3 separate regions of the Homo sapiens genome follow, and regions 2 and 3 are each linked to region 1. The links come from fine-mapping of genetic effects on gene expression. A gene starts in region 1. Each other region holds a variant in brackets. All regions are shown on one strand. Distances are between the middles of the regions.

Region 1 (5,000 bases):
TCAGCAGCACTGATGCCCTGGAACCTCCACAGGACAGGGAGTATAGACATGGTGGTATGAAGGCAGAGCGAGGAGCCTGTAGCAGGCGCTGGCCTCGATGCACATCCGGGCACTGCGGTAAGTGTGTCTAAGGATTCTGATGAGCATGTTGATGGTGGGGAGGAGGACGAGTACACTGGAGCAAAAAGAACAAGGGCCCTGGGTCAGGCACACCCAAGCATGAATTTAGGCTTTGTCACTTACTCTCTATGGCACTATGGATAAGTACTTTAGCCCCCTTGAGCCTCAGTTTTCTCATCTCTAGACTGGGCACAATGATGACCAGCCTTGCAGGGTTGAGGGGAAGATCAGAAGTCATCTTGCAAAGCGTCTTGGCTGGTGCCTAGCATGGGGATGTGTGGTGAAGGTCAACATGAGTGATGCCACCTTCTCCAGAGAGCCCTCTGGATTTATGCCAGAGCTGGGGATGGCTGGATTGCCCCTTGCCGTGCAGTTCTTTCTCTCTCCATTCCCTGAGAAACCTTAGGAGCTGGCAGGTGGAGGGATGTAACAGGGTGCTTCAATTGTCCAGATCTGGAAGGGCTCAGGATGGTGAAGAGAGCCACGTTGCCCAGAGCATGCCCTTGCATGCCTATCCATGGTGAGATTTCCTTGATGCCTCCCTGCTCCAGCAGCCTGCACCACCCTGGAAGCTTTGTCTTCTGTCATCTCAGGAGGAATGGGGGCCACAGATGAAGTGTTCAGTTGGTTTCAGGAGAGGAAGTTAAGGAAAATGAAGGCAGTGAATGCTGTGATGGAAGGTGCAGGAATCCCAATGGGGACTCTGGGCATTGAAAACACCTTTGGGCCGGATGCTTTGCCTACCCTGGATGCCTACTGCCTGCCCCTGCCCACCCAGCACAGGGGAAACACCAAGTCCCCCACCACTCACTTGCTGGGTGCCCCTGGGCAGGTCACACCTCTCTGGGCCTCAGTTTGGTCATCTGAGAGAAGACGGGGGCTCTTTTCTCTCAGAAGAGGAGTTAGATGACCCCTGAGGACCTCTCCAGCTTTAACAGTCCATAGGAAATCTCTTGTCCATCTTGGGGTTGGCAGACAGTGCCTCTTTTTATGGGCAAGGGCAGGAGGGAACAGCTAAAAACCAGAAACTGGGGCTCCAAAAAAGGGAATGGGTCTGAGGCTCAGGTCTTGGACAGGGCCATGACTCCTGTCTTGAGTTGCATTTCTGGGAGCTTGGAGGTCCCTGGTGGGGAAGCTGCCAAAGACTTGGGCTCCTAAGCAGGCAGCTGGTTGTCAGGGAAGCTCTGGCTTCTGGGGAGAAAGAAGGCTGGGGGAGGGAAGTGTGTGTGTGTGTGTGTGTGTGTGTGTGTTTTGGAAAGAGCCTCCAGTGGAGGTCTCCCGTGGCCCACCCGCACTGTGGGGAGCATGGCCTTGGAGGTCCGTCAGTCCTATGCTTTCTGCCCTGGGATCCCCCTGACCTTTGAAGATGCCCCTCACCCCTCGCTTCTGTAGCCAGACACCTTCAAAGGGAAGGTGCTTTTCTACAAGCTGAGGGAAAAGCCTGGAAGGAATGGGGCCCAGGGACGCTGCAGGAGGGGCCTCAGGGGCTGCCAGGGACCAGCACTCTCCCTGCTCCCCTCCTGCCATGGCTTGTAGCCCCTCTCCAGGGTAACCTGGTGGCTGGCAGGCACTGAATAGCGAACCTCTGGCTGCCGCCGACCATACCATTCAAACTTCCGACAGGGGAAGGTGAGCGCCATGGGGCCGCAGAGGCAGTAAAACCCTCCCCCTGCGTCTCCCCAGAGTCTTCCACCCCTGAGAGGGCTCCAAGGAGACAGGCTGGAGAGAGGCGGTGGGAAGGCCAGGGGGCATCCCAGAGTCTCTGGACAGCTCCCCTCTCCCTCTTCCCAACCCAGTTGCCATCCCTACTCCCTTAGCTATCCCCTCCCCCAAGGCAGGGCCCAAACTCTTCTAGACAAAGCCAGGTCCAGCTGGGGAGTGACGGGGAGGCCACTCTGCTGGCCAGGCTGACCGAGGGCTGCAGGGCACAGCAGAGCCTGGCAGGGCTGGGGTCACAGGCACTGCCCAGGGCTCCTTGGGCCTCCCTTCCACAGCTGAGAAGACCTCTCCACGGAGCTCCGGACGGCTGGGGTCTGGCTCTGAGGTCAGTGCTTGGGGGACTGCAGGAGAAGGCTTGGAGAGGGAAGTGTGGTGGAGACCCTTGCTGGGGACTCCTGGGAGAATGTGAGGGTATGCTCAGACCTAGGCAGTCCTCTGGTTCTGTAGAGAGGGGAAACAAGGCCCAGTAAGGGGTAGGGACTAGCCCGAGGCCACACAGCAGTCTTCTCTGCCCACAGCAGGTCCTGCTCTGTGGAACTCCAAGGGAAGAGGAGGGTCCTAGACTGAGCTTGCAGAGATATGTCCAGAGCAGGGCCCGCTGGTGCACCCTGGCCCCAGTGGGAAGGGAGTGGCTTCAACTGCCCTCCAGATGATTCCTGGCCTTGGTCCGGGCAAGGCATCCTCTCCCAGTACTAGCTGGCCTTTGCTGGTTGGTCAGTAGCCGGGTGTCAAGGGGCCTGGCAGCTGGACTTGCCTCGTGCTCCAGGAAGGGTGTTGTGTTGTTTTCAAGCACTTAGGAATCTCTCGTTGCCACAGGAACTACTCAGATGCTAATTACAACTCCACTTATTTTTTTTTTATTTTTTATTTTTTTGAGACAGAGTGTTGCTCTGTCGCTCAGGCTGTAGCGCAGTGGCATGATTCTAGCTCGCTGTAGCCTCAAACTTTTGGGCTCAAATGATCCTTCTGCCTCAGCCTCCTGAGTAGCTGGGGCCACAGGCACATACTACCACACCTGGCTAATTAAAAAACCTTTTTTTTTTTTCTTTCAGAAATGAAGACTCACTATGTTGCCCAGGCTGTTCTCAAACTCCTGGGCTCAAGTGATCCTCCTGCCTTGGCCTCCCAAAGTGCTGGGATTACAGGTGAGAGCCAACACGCCTGGCCTCACTTATTTTTTAAATTAAAGCAGGTCCCAAGGCCTGAAGCCTGGATCCTATTTGCTAGCCCAGTAGGGTCTCCAGATTCCTTTGAAGGCCTTGAAATAACATTAGAACTAGTAGGATTGAGGCATCTCCCATTTCAGACTGCCCTTTTCTTACTCCTGGCCAAGCATTGTCCAGGGTAGGAGAGAGGGATGGCTGATTTTCTCCCCACGGGAATGAGCGGTGGGCACACCCCATCCCTCCTCCCTGCTCAGACTCAAGGAAAGGCCAACCCATGCACAGCTGCCCAGCCAGAGTGCTCTCTAGGCCTGATGCCGCAAAGGCGGAGGCCCTGGGCAGCTAGACGGGCATCACACTTTCCAGCCAGGCACTGGGAGGGGTCGTTTTCTGCCTGGAAGTGCTGGGAGGGGTGGTGGTGGGGAATGGGTGGGAGGTGGGGTGCTCTGCATGCCCTCAGTTGGCTGGGCGCAGGGAGCCAGGAGTGAGGTCCTGCGGCTGCTGGTGAGTGCCTGGGGTAGGGACAGGAGTCCCTCGGGTGGGGAACTAGGTGGCCCACTCCCCTCCCCACTACCTGTGGCAGGGTTTCTCTGAGCGTGACCTGACATCTTTCCTCCTCCTGAGCTTCCGTGCTAGAAACTCAACTGTTATCTAAGCTGCAAGCTGGGAAGGAGGAAAATCTGCTATCCCCCACCCTCATGAAAAGGAAAGACCCCAAGGTTAAAGGGAAATCATGACTTTTTATCAGACCCCCTGGGATTGCTTGTCCACGTCAGTAGAATTTAAATATCACACATGCTGACCTGCAAGCTGGACGTCCTCTGCTTATGTGTTTGGTTTGGCCTGTGTAGTGTTTCAAATATTTGAAAATTCATTTCACATTATTTTGAAATCAAGTTTATTTGGCTTTTGCTGTGTTCTCCCCCACCCCACCTCTCTTCTTTCTTGCCTTCAACAAATTTGAATTAGCTGCCAACATTTAAACGTCTAGAATGTTTGCCTTTAAAAAAATCCAGATTTCTGGCTTCTCTTGGGAAACTGACAGAGCTGACCACACTGGGCCTGCACTCCGGCACTGACAGCACCATTCTGGGCTGAGGCCCCTCCACTTCCTTGAGAGGGCCCAGCCAGTGCTCTCCAGGTGGCCCTGCTCATCTGTACCCTCTGGTCATGTGTTATCTGCTGGCCAGGATCTGTGAGCATTTTTATTACAACCCCAGACATATTGAGCCAAAAGCTCAGCCTGGTTTTCCATCGACAAGGACCGTCTGCTGCACTGCGTCTAATGGGATGATCTTCAGTGGGAAAGGAAATGCCCTGTCAGGTGTATGATGTCCCTGGGGGGTTTCCAGCCCCCTTGTCAACTCCTTGTGGGTTTATTTCCCACCTGTTCCCAGAGCAGCTCACTGAGCTCCGAAAGGGCTGGGGGCCAGAGGGGTGGCAAGGCCATGGGGCCAGGAGTCAGGAGACCTGCTTCTGACCTTCACTTGGCCATTGGCTCACAATGTGGCCTTGGCCTTCCCACCACCAAGCTGCCCCACCCCACCCTACTGTGACCCACAATGCAGCCAGCCAAGCCTTCCCAAGGAGTGAGCTCTGGCTTGTCACTCCCCACCTCTAAAACCTTCACTGGCTCCCTAATGCCAAATCCCCTCTTCGGACCTCAGTTTCCCACCTGTCGTGGGAGCAAGTTGGACTGCATGGGGAAGCAGTCACAGGAATCCCCACGGGGCCAGGCAGGTGAAATAAGGTGTGTGGTGGGCCTGTGGGGGAGGGTGGGGAGCTGGAGGTCAGTGCCCTGTCTACAGGGGGCAGCGGCTGCTCAGCCCCAGACACAGGGATGAGGCAGGAACATGGGCCAATGCCAGTGGTGAAATTCTGACATTTCAAGAGAATTCAGGCACCCATATATTTTTGTGAAATCTGTTATTATTTTGAAAATATTCATAATTACATTGATAAAAACATGGCAAGGACCCAACTAAACACACCCGTGGG
Region 2 (5,000 bases), 33 kb before region 1:
TCTGCCTGGCTACAGAGGTAACTGAGAAAGGATTGCTCTGGTGCCAGGTGGCTTTTGGCTCGCAACTTATTTCCTGTGGCCGGCCCTTAACAACTTGTCATCCCTCCCTCCCCTCATTCCCGGGGGCCCCCACGTGAAGCCCCATAGTGGGTCACTCGGGGGCTGTGGCCACCTCACCCTTGCTTTCAGAACTCCCCTATTCCTCTCCTAGAACACACCACAACCTACCTGCAGGAATACCCATGGCTGGGGGTGGGTGGGGGCAGGTAAAGGGCTTGGAACAGAAGAGCAACGCTGGGCAGCAGGGCAGGGGGAGCAGGTGTTGCTGTGCCCTCCCTGGTGGAAGGCTGGCCCAGAGAGCCTGCTCAGGAATGAGGCACTCTCAGGAAAAAAAGAAAAGGAAAGGGCTGGGAGCCTTGAGGACGGCAGTTTGCTGGAGAGGCCAACAGGTGTGGATTTCCATCCTGCTTTGGACTGAGCCTCAGTTTCCCCAGCTCTAAAATGGGACCAACAACCCTCACCCCAAAGGGTGGCACAGAGGATGAGATGAGGGAATACCCGTGTGCACCTGCACGAAGCCTGACCCATGAGTCGGCTGTAAGCAATAGCCATGGTTTGAATAGATTTCAGGAACTTTTGGGTAACTTCCCTGTGTTTGTTCTGTTGTTGTGCCCCTCCCCCACCATCTGTTTCCCCATCGTAATCAGCAGTAAATCTCCTTAAAACGAGAAGCATCTGTGGGAGGACATGGGGTGCTGCATGAAAGAGGGAAGTTGGGGTCACTGCATCTAATTGGTGGCCAGTTTGGGGGGTGGGGTGTCCCAAGGCTGAGGCAAGCGGCAGCAACTTGGATGAGAAGCAGAAAGTGAGTGAAGTGGCTGGGAAGTGATCGGGGACTTGCACCTTGTAAGGTTTCCCTGAGAGATGTCCCCTAGAATGCCACCCTATTAGGCAATGTAGGGGATAGGACAGAGAGGACCAGGAGCCCTCTAATTAGGAACTGACCTTAAACACTCCCACCCAGTAAGTCATGGCTAAAGACCAGAACCTGGCAAATGTTCAAACAAGAGACACCAGTTAGCAAATTCAAGAGTTGACCTTTGCTCGATACTTAAATCCTGAAGGTCTGACACTGTGTAAGTCAAGCCATAGGAGAAAGCGCTGGCTGCCTTTGGTCTCCTGATGGCAGATAGCGTTCTTACACTCCTGGAAAATGCAGATAGAGTTTCATTTATCAGTCGTCAAAATGGGCCCCTCATGGAGGCCCCATCTGCTGGACAGACACGCAGATCGCTTGCTGGACAGCACCCATGTGAAAAGAAATGGAGTCCGGAGCTGTGCAGGGCCCTCCTGGGCTCGCTCCTGTTCCCTGCAGGGCATCTGCCAGCAGGGGCAGGGATGTTGTATGGGGAAGCCTTCCCTTCCATGACCAGCTTCTCTGTCTGTCTGTCCCTAGGTGCCCAGGAGCTGGTGCGGATGGACAGGTAAGGCCCATGGAGACCTTCTTGAGAAAACTTCCTGGGCCGGCTATCCAGGAAGAGATACTTCTGTGCAGTAGGGGCCCTGTTTAGCTGCCTAGAGCAGCTGGTCAGAAGAGCCTCTGCCATCTGCTGCTGAAGCCTGCACATCTGTGCAGATTGGCTGTTCTCCTGCCACCCCGACTCAGCAGGCTGAGCTCTGATTCTGCTCAGATGTGTCATGCACCCACCTTCGGGTCTCAGTGGTCAGCCTGGGCCAGGATGGGGACAGGGAGGAAGCACTGTCTGGGGCAGACAGTGAGACATGCAAAGGAGGCCAGCGGGCCCAGCCCCAGCCACAGCCCTTGAGCTGTGCCTCCTGCCCGCAGAGAACTCCAAGGAGAAAGCTGTTAGGCCGCTGCAGGCCACAAGGGCAGAGGCTGAGGGGTCCCAGAGTGGTGCAGTGGGCTGGGTCTAGGGGCAGAGGGGATGGGGACTGTGTATTGGTGTGCTCTGGGCAGGAAGCTGCCATGCAGCCTGGCCTGGAGGGTGTGTTCAGGGAACCCAAGTTCCTGCCCCGGTACCTGCAACACCAAACACAAAGCTCCTCTAGGTGTTTGAAAGGGATGATCTTCAAGACAGGTTGAAGGAAGTCCTGCTTGCAACTCATCTAGAATCTAAGAGTTGCAGGGGTCTTCAGAAGTTATCCCACTCCCAACTGGGAAGAGAAGAGAACCCCTCCCCTCAGCTCAAGACAGGCTTTGGGGATGTTCGATCCTAATGCCATCAACTCTATTGACCAAAGAGAAACTTGTCCCCAAATTCCTGAGGCTGAAGTTCTAGAAGTGTCTGTGATTTTTGGCTTCCTGGCTGTGCCCGGGGTTGATGGTCAGACCACAGGGAGGAGCTGGGGTCTGTTCTGGTGGGCCCTGATGCCCTCAGCTCAGGACAGGTGGGCAGGTGCAGCCCATGGCCTTTGCTCTGTGGGCCTGGCTCCTGCCTTCTTGCTTGGAGATGCTGCTGAGGCTTGGGGATGGGGATGTAGGTGAGAGAAAGGGAGGAGAGAAAAACTGGGGGCAGGGAGGGCAGAGTTCACGCTC[C/T]GGACAGCACAGATGACCTTCCATTCTGGTTCTGTGGCAGCAACATTCAAGGGATTGAAAACCCCGGCTTTGAAGCCTCACCACCTGCCCAGGGGATACCCGAGGCCAAAGTCAGGCACCCCCTGTCCTATGTGGCCCAGCGGCAGCCTTCTGAGTCTGGGCGGCATCTGCTTTCGGAGCCCAGCACCCCCCTGTCTCCTCCAGGCCCCGGAGACGTCTTCTTCCCATCCCTGGGTAAGTGTTTCCTGACCTTCACAGCACGATGACCTGTAAGGTCATGACCTCATGGCCTGCAGGGCATCGGCCTCACTCCCTGCCCTCCCTGAAGAGTTCCACGGCCTCACGGGGTGGGGTTGAGGGTGAGGGACAGAGGGGCCCCCATTCACCTCCCTGAAGAGTTCCACGGCCTCACGGGGTGGGGTTGAGGGTGAGGGACAGAGGGGCCCCCATTCACCTCCCTGAAGAGTTCCACGGCCTCACGGGGTGGGGTTGAGGGTGAGGGACAGAGGGGCCCCCATTCACCTCCCTGAAGAGTTCCACGGCCTCACGGGGTGGGGTTGAGGGTGAGGGGCAGAGGGGCCCCGTTCACTTTGCTTCTCCTTTTCTTGCAGACCCTGTCCCTGACTCTCCAAACTTTGAGGTCATCTAGCCCAGCTGGGGGACAGTGGGCTGTTGTGGCTGGGTCTGGGGCAGGTGCATTTGAGCCAGGGCTGGCTCTGTGAGTGGCCTCCTTGGCCTCGGCCCTGGTTCCCTCCCTCCTGCTCTGGGCTCAGATACTGTGACATCCCAGAAGCCCAGCCCCTCAACCCCTCTGGATGCTACATGGGGATGCTGGACGGCTCAGCCCCTGTTCCAAGGATTTTGGGGTGCTGAGATTCTCCCCTAGAGACCTGAAATTCACCAGCTACAGATGCCAAATGACTTACATCTTAAGAAGTCTCAGAACGTCCAGCCCTTCAGCAGCTCTCGTTCTGAGACATGAGCCTTGGGATGTGGCAGCATCAGTGGGACAAGATGGACACTGGGCCACCCTCCCAGGCACCAGACACAGGGCACGGTGGAGAGACTTCTCCCCCGTGGCCGCCTTGGCTCCCCCGTTTTGCCCGAGGCTGCTCTTCTGTCAGACTTCCTCTTTGTACCACAGTGGCTCTGGGGCCAGGCCTGCCTGCCCACTGGCCATCGCCACCTTCCCCAGCTGCCTCCTACCAGCAGTTTCTCTGAAGATCTGTCAACAGGTTAAGTCAATCTGGGGCTTCCACTGCCTGCATTCCAGTCCCCAGAGCTTGGTGGTCCCGAAACGGGAAGTACATATTGGGGCATGGTGGCCTCCGTGAGCAAATGGTGTCTTGGGCAATCTGAGGCCAGGACAGATGTTGCCCCACCCACTGGAGATGGTGCTGAGGGAGGTGGGTGGGGCCTTCTGGGAAGGTGAGTGGAGAGGGGCACCTGCCCCCCGCCCTCCCCATCCCCTACTCCCACTGCTCAGCGCGGGCCATTGCAAGGGTGCCACACAATGTCTTGTCCACCCTGGGACACTTCTGAGTATGAAGCGGGATGCTATTAAAAACTACATGGGGAAACAGGTGCAAACCCTGGAGATGGATTGTAAGAGCCAGTTTAAATCTGCACTCTGCTGCTCCTCCCCCACCCCCACCTTCCACTCCATACAATCTGGGCCTGGTGGAGTCTTCGCTTCAGAGCCATTCGGCCAGGTGCGGGTGATGTTCCCATCTCCTGCTTGTGGGCATGCCCTGGCTTTGTTTTTATACACATAGGCAAGGTGAGTCCTCTGTGGAATTGTGATTGAAGGATTTTAAAGCAGGGGAGGAGAGTAGGGGGCATCTCTGTACACTCTGGGGGTAAAACAGGGAAGGCAGTGCCTGAGCATGGGGACAGGTGAGGTGGGGCTGGGCAGACCCCCTGTAGCGTTTAGCAGGATGGGGGCCCCAGGTACTGTGGAGAGCATAGTCCAGCCTGGGCATTTGTCTCCTAGCAGCCTACACTGGCTCTGCTGAGCTGGGCCTGGGTGCTGAAAGCCAGGATTTGGGGCTAGGCGGGAAGATGTTCGCCCAATTGCTTGGGGGGTTGGGGGGATGGAAAAGGGGAGCACCTCTAGGCTGCCTGGCAGCAGTGAGCCCTGGGCCTGTGGCTACAGCCAGGGAACCCCACCTGGACACATGGCCCTGCTTCTAAGCCCCCCAGTTAGGCCCAAAGGAATGGTCCACTGAGGGCCTCCTGCTCTGCCTGGGCTGGGCCAGGGGCTTTGAGGAGAGGGTAAACATAGGCCCGGAGATGGGGCTGACACCTCGAGTGGCCAGAATATGCCCAAACCCCGGCTTCTCCCTTGTCCCTAGGCAGAGGGGGGTCCCTTCTTTTGTTCCCTCTGGTCACCACAATGCTTGATGCCAGCTGCCATAGGAAGAGGGTGCTGGCTGGCCATGGT
Region 3 (5,000 bases), 25 kb before region 1:
AGCTCTCAGGAACCTGGGGGGACGAGGGTCTCAGGGAGAAAAGTAGAGCTGGAGGGACTCAGAGAATTTCTCTTGGCTCTGGGGAGGGTCTTAGCAGCCAAATCTCAGGCCCCCTGCTTAGGGAGCCACATCTTTCAAAACAGGGATGCAAATGATGCTTCCTCCAGAAAACCTGCCCTGGCTTCCAGGCTCCTAGCACTCTACCACATCACAGTGTCAGCTCTCCAGTACATGTGCCTTCCCCTGCCAGACCGTAGGCTCCTGGAGGGCAGACCTGTGCCTGATGTATCTCTGGTGTCCTAGCCTGTACTACAGGCCTCACACATAACACATACTTGGTGTTGGATGAACAAATGAATGAATCTTTCATGCCCTTGTCCTCCAGCAAGGTTGGTCCTGAGCCAGTGAAGGCCATTTTGAAGCCAGGCAGATAACTGCAGTGGGAGTAAAAGGATGGCAAGTGGGCCTGCTGGCTTTCTCTGGATGGATCTATGCAGGGTAGCAGCTGCTGTCTCACCCATTAGACTGTGGCAGCCATTCCTGGAATCTCAGGGTGGTTGGCTGCATGCTGCTCAGGTCTCTGGTTGCTCTAGGAGGGGCTGGGACAATGCTCCTTCCTCATACACGCATCCAGTGAAATCTGCCCAGAGGCAGAGAAGGGCTCTGCTCTTGGGGATATTCATAACCCTGAGGGGTTTACTGCCCAAAGTTGAGGGTCTGGTCAGTGGAAGCAAATCTTCAAGGGTCCAGTGCTCCTTGGAGGCAAGCTACCCTGGTAGGCACTGTGGGCTGCAGGACCCCTGCTTGCTAGCTCTGCCCCATCCCCACCTTGGCTCGGCCAGGCATGGAGGCAGTAGAGGGGGGGTCTTGAGAAGGCAGCGGGAGCAGCTCTTATGGCGAGTCCCATATACACTGTCCCGGGAGGATATGGAAATAGAGAGTCCTGCCCTTGGCCTTGGAAGCAGCCCCGGGCCTAAACCACCTGTGGCTCCCAGAACCCATCCCTGATTATTGCTTGCTCTTCAGCCTTTGTGCAGGCTGAACCCCAGAATATGCTTCTTTCTTGGCTGTGCTAACCAAGACTGACCAACAAGACTCGGCCCAGGTGTCACCTCCTCCAGGAAGCCTTCCCCAAGCCCTTCTCAGTGCCCCATTGCACACCAGTGTTTTCATTGCCTCCCTTACTCAACTTCATTTCTTCAGGCCACAGACCACATTTTCTTCATTTCGGTATCTCCAGTGCCTGGCACATAGTGGCCATTCAGGGACAATGGCTGAATGAATGAATGAGTGAATGAGTGAATGAGTGAATGAATGAATAAATATGGTTTAGTGCTAGTTTCTCTATGTCCCTATGGTCACTGCAATTCTTCACTGAGGTGTCCCCTGCAAAAACCAAATGATAGCAATATTTTCCCAACTTGGAGAAGCAGGGGGAAAAATTGAAGATGGATGGATTCTTTTCGACTTAAAATTGTTTTCCTATACATCTTTCAAGTTGGTACCTGTTGCTGTTTATATTACGGTCTGGAAGAAAGCATCATGGTTCAGCCCAGGAAGCCCCATATATATTCCCCTGGAGATGGATGGCCTCAGGGTCCCTGGTCCTAATCATCCTGAGGGTGTTTTCTGGGGCCTCAGGGAGCAGAGCTGGTGATGACCAGGATGAGCAGGGCGGATGCTACCCAGCTTCTCCTGCTCTCACCGGGGAGCTGGTATGGGCTGAGCCCTGCTTCAGTGAGAACCAGAATGTCAGGGGCTGACATGTGAGGTGGGAATGCTTATGCTCCCCAAGGGGTGGGATGGGTCCCTGCAGAGGGTTTGGCCAGCAGATGGAAACTCTTTTTAGCCATGGGGACCAATCCCAAGATTTTAAAGGATTGCTTGGATAGTGGCCCATGCATTCTGGGTGATTAACTGTGGCCAGGGTGATTTTCCATTTCTTCAATTCCCATTTATTCTGGGGACCCAAAGGAAGCCTGATTTTGCCTACAAACTGCAGGGTCTTAGAATGTTATGGATTCCACCGATGGTCTCCCTGAGAGACCCTAGGACTGTGGGGGTTGGAGTGTGGGTGGGGAGTGGGGGTGGTGCGTTGACTGGCCTGCATTAGGATTGGGGAGGGCAGTGTGGCAAATGCTGTCAGATGCCCACCCCAAATCCATTCTCCACTTCTTCCTCACTGACAGAGGCCTGCTTTTGTGTGGGAAGTGATATATCTGGCCCCCAAGTAATATGCTGACCATGATAATCCTGTCCCTCATTTTTTCTAACCTCCCTTGCAGCTAGGGTGCCCACGTGAGCCACTTCTGGCCAAGGAGACACAAGCAGCACTCTGGAGGGTGGTTCTGGGAAACCTGTTGCTTTCCTGATAAAAGGGCAGAAGTAGCTGCCATAGCCCTTTGCCATCTTTTTGTCATCTTCCTGCCTTGGATGCTGACTTGATGCCTAGAGTTATAGTAGCTATCTTGCCACCATGAGGGAAAGGCCAAGAAACATGAGCTCTGACACCTCTGAGCCTGAAATCCACATTCTCTGTAGAATTTTTGCTCTGT[A/G]GGAAAATGCATTTTGATTCTTTATGACTCCATAGTCAGTTTCTGTTACTTCACAAATGCTATTGAAGGGACGACCAAGATGATCCACCCTGAAGCCAAGTGCAGTGGGGTGGGGTCATGTCGAAACTGGGTCCTCCCACGTTAACACAATAAATGATACCCCTCTCTGCCCCAGCCCCACCCTGCCCAGTGAGTGACACGTGTCCTATAAATGTATCCTTGTTTAGCCCACTGGGTGTGAATGGCTGAGGTGGCTAGTGATGACACTGTGCAGCCATGGGGCTAAGGATGCCCACAGGGGTGCCCAGAGTCAGTCTCATTTCCTGGACTCCTCAGAATGTTGTGGTGGGGTGGGGATTCCTGGATTATTAACCCAATCCCAATTCCTGGAGTTATTGGACCAACATCTCCAGAGAAGCTCCAGACAAAGAGCCCTGCCCAGACCTGGTGTGACCCCACCTCCCACAGTGCTGCTGTCAAAGGGGAGAGGTCTAACCTGCTATGAGAGGGACAGAGCTGGGGCCTCATTTGCAATCAGGGTCCTTCCAGGAGACAGATTACAAAACTGTCCCTGAACTCTTCACCTTCCTTGTAACCACACTCTTTGCAGTGTGACTTTGTAGCTCATTCCTTCAGAAGGTAGAGTTTATTTTCCCATAGCTTGAGTCTGGGCTGGCCTTGTGACTTGCTTTGGCCAACAGATTGTGGTAGAAGTGACCTTGTGCCAGTTCCAAGCCAGGGACTCAAGAGGCCTTGCACGCCTCTGCTGTCTCTTCTGGACACTTTCCAGCCCCATAAGAACAGGCACGGGCTAGCCTTCTGGAGGATGAGTTGTCCCTGTCACCCCAGCTGCTGGCGAGCCAACCCTCAGAAGCATAGCACCCTGCTGACAGGCAGCTGCCCACATACAAATGCAGAAGCCCAGCTGAGACCAGAAGAACCACCCGGCTAAGCCATGTCCAGATTGCCAGCCTGCAGAATTAGCGCTAACTATGTGGTTATTGTTTTACTCCTCTGTTTTGTTTGGTTTGTAAGGCAGCATTATTGTGGCAATAGAGAACTAATAACAGTCCTCTTCCTCCTCATGGTTTACCAAGTGCTTCCACAGACATGAGCTAATTTGATTCCCCAAACAACACCTATGAGGTAGATATTATCTCCCTTTTGCAGATGACAAAAGCGATATGCTGAGAGGTTCTGACTTGCTCAAGATCATGCAGCCAGCCACAGTGCTCCTGACTCCAAATTCCCTGCTTTCAGTTTATAAGCCACTCCCAACACAGCTCATCAGCTCCTAGAGATCTCCATCCAGCCCTTGAGGACCACAAGTCCTTCCCTCACCTGGCAAACTTTGAACATTGCCTTGGGCAGTGGTGCTGTTCATTCGAGCGTTAGTGTGAACCACAGACACGAATCCCTTCCCACCCTGACGTGTTGTGACAGCATGCCACACCACACAATGTAGGGGAAGAGGGCCAGAGAGGCACCCTTTCTGTAAGACACCACCATGCACATTGGTGTGACCTCACAGTGCATAGGTGGGCAAGTGAAGCGGGGGCTAGATTCATACCCACTTGCTCCCTGGGCCAGGCCCCAATACAGAGGCTCAACCTGTACCACCCCATAGAGCTGCTCTGTGAGAGAAAAGAGGACTAAACAGAGCTTCTGAGTAGCTATAGACTCGGGAGGCCAAACTAGCACCCCAGCTTTGCACGCAACAGGCCTCCGTAAGGGGAGGCCATCTTGGGCAGATGGACTAAAGGCAGATGGACTAAAGGAGTTGTCAAGGATTCGCCTGCTGTGTGGAATTCCATTCTCACCCATCTTGTTCCCCTCACTCGGAGGCGGAGCTGCCCTGGCCCACCCGCTCCTCCCTGTGGCCACCCCCATCGCTCACCGACAGGGTTGGGGTGCCCTCGTCCTCCACAGTGGCCACCAGGTGGTAGAAGCTCTGGCGCTCGCGGTCAGGCGGGGCAGGCCGTGTGGCGATCTCACCGCTGATGCGGTCCATGCGGAAGGCCATGTCCTTGTTGCCCTCGGTGATGTAGTAGGACAGAACACTGTTGATCCCGATGTCACGGTCAGTGGCTCTCACCTGGACCACAGCAGTACCTCCACCCACGTTCTGGGAGGAGAGCAGGAGAGCAGTCATTCTGGACTCAAGGCATTGGGGCACAGTCTGGCACCTGCTCCTGTAGCCCGAAGGCTCCCCCTGTACCTCCCAAAAGCTTTGCTGCATCTACCCCAGAGCAATGATGGAGATAATAAGGATGATAGCAGCGAACATTCTGTGAGCACCTCTGATATGCTGGGGCCTGCATTAACTCACTGGGTCCTCTCTCCAACTCTGTGAGTTAGGTACTGGCATCATCATCCTCATTTACAGAAGAGAAAACTGAGGTGCAGGGAAGGAATGTGTGCAAGTCCACACAGCCAATCAGTGGG

Evidence for each region.
Region 2: its variant is fine-mapped to the expression of C10orf105 in whole blood (TOPMed, PIP above 0.99).
Region 3: its variant is fine-mapped to the expression of C10orf105 in whole blood (TOPMed, PIP above 0.99).

What each region holds. Positions count from the first base shown.
Region 1 is chr10:71,716,791-71,721,790 of GRCh38, reverse strand. It overlaps C10orf105 (chromosome 10 open reading frame 105), which reads left to right and starts at 2,013. Exons shown (of 2, transcript NM_001164375.3): 1 at 2,013-2,164. The region is part of intron 28 of CDH23 (cadherin related 23); the gene reads right to left. RefSeq lists an enhancer at 1,876-2,624 and a silencer at 4,541-4,738.
Region 2 is chr10:71,749,459-71,754,458 of GRCh38, reverse strand. All of the region lies in intron 38 of CDH23 (cadherin related 23), which reads right to left. VSIR (V-set immunoregulatory receptor) reads left to right here. Exons shown (of 7, transcript NM_022153.2): 5 at 1,457-1,484; 6 at 2,598-2,791; 7 at 3,169-5,000. The coding sequence ends at 3,206. Among named protein-coding and RNA genes, the nearest start is that of VSIR, 22 kb to the left of the region's middle. The variant C/T (reference allele first, on the strand shown) is at 2,558.
Region 3 is chr10:71,741,374-71,746,373 of GRCh38, reverse strand. CDH23 (cadherin related 23) reads right to left here. Exons shown (of 70, transcript NM_022124.6): 38 at 4,453-4,680. Among named protein-coding and RNA genes, the nearest start is that of C10orf105, 24 kb to the right of the region's middle. The variant A/G (reference allele first, on the strand shown) is at 2,556.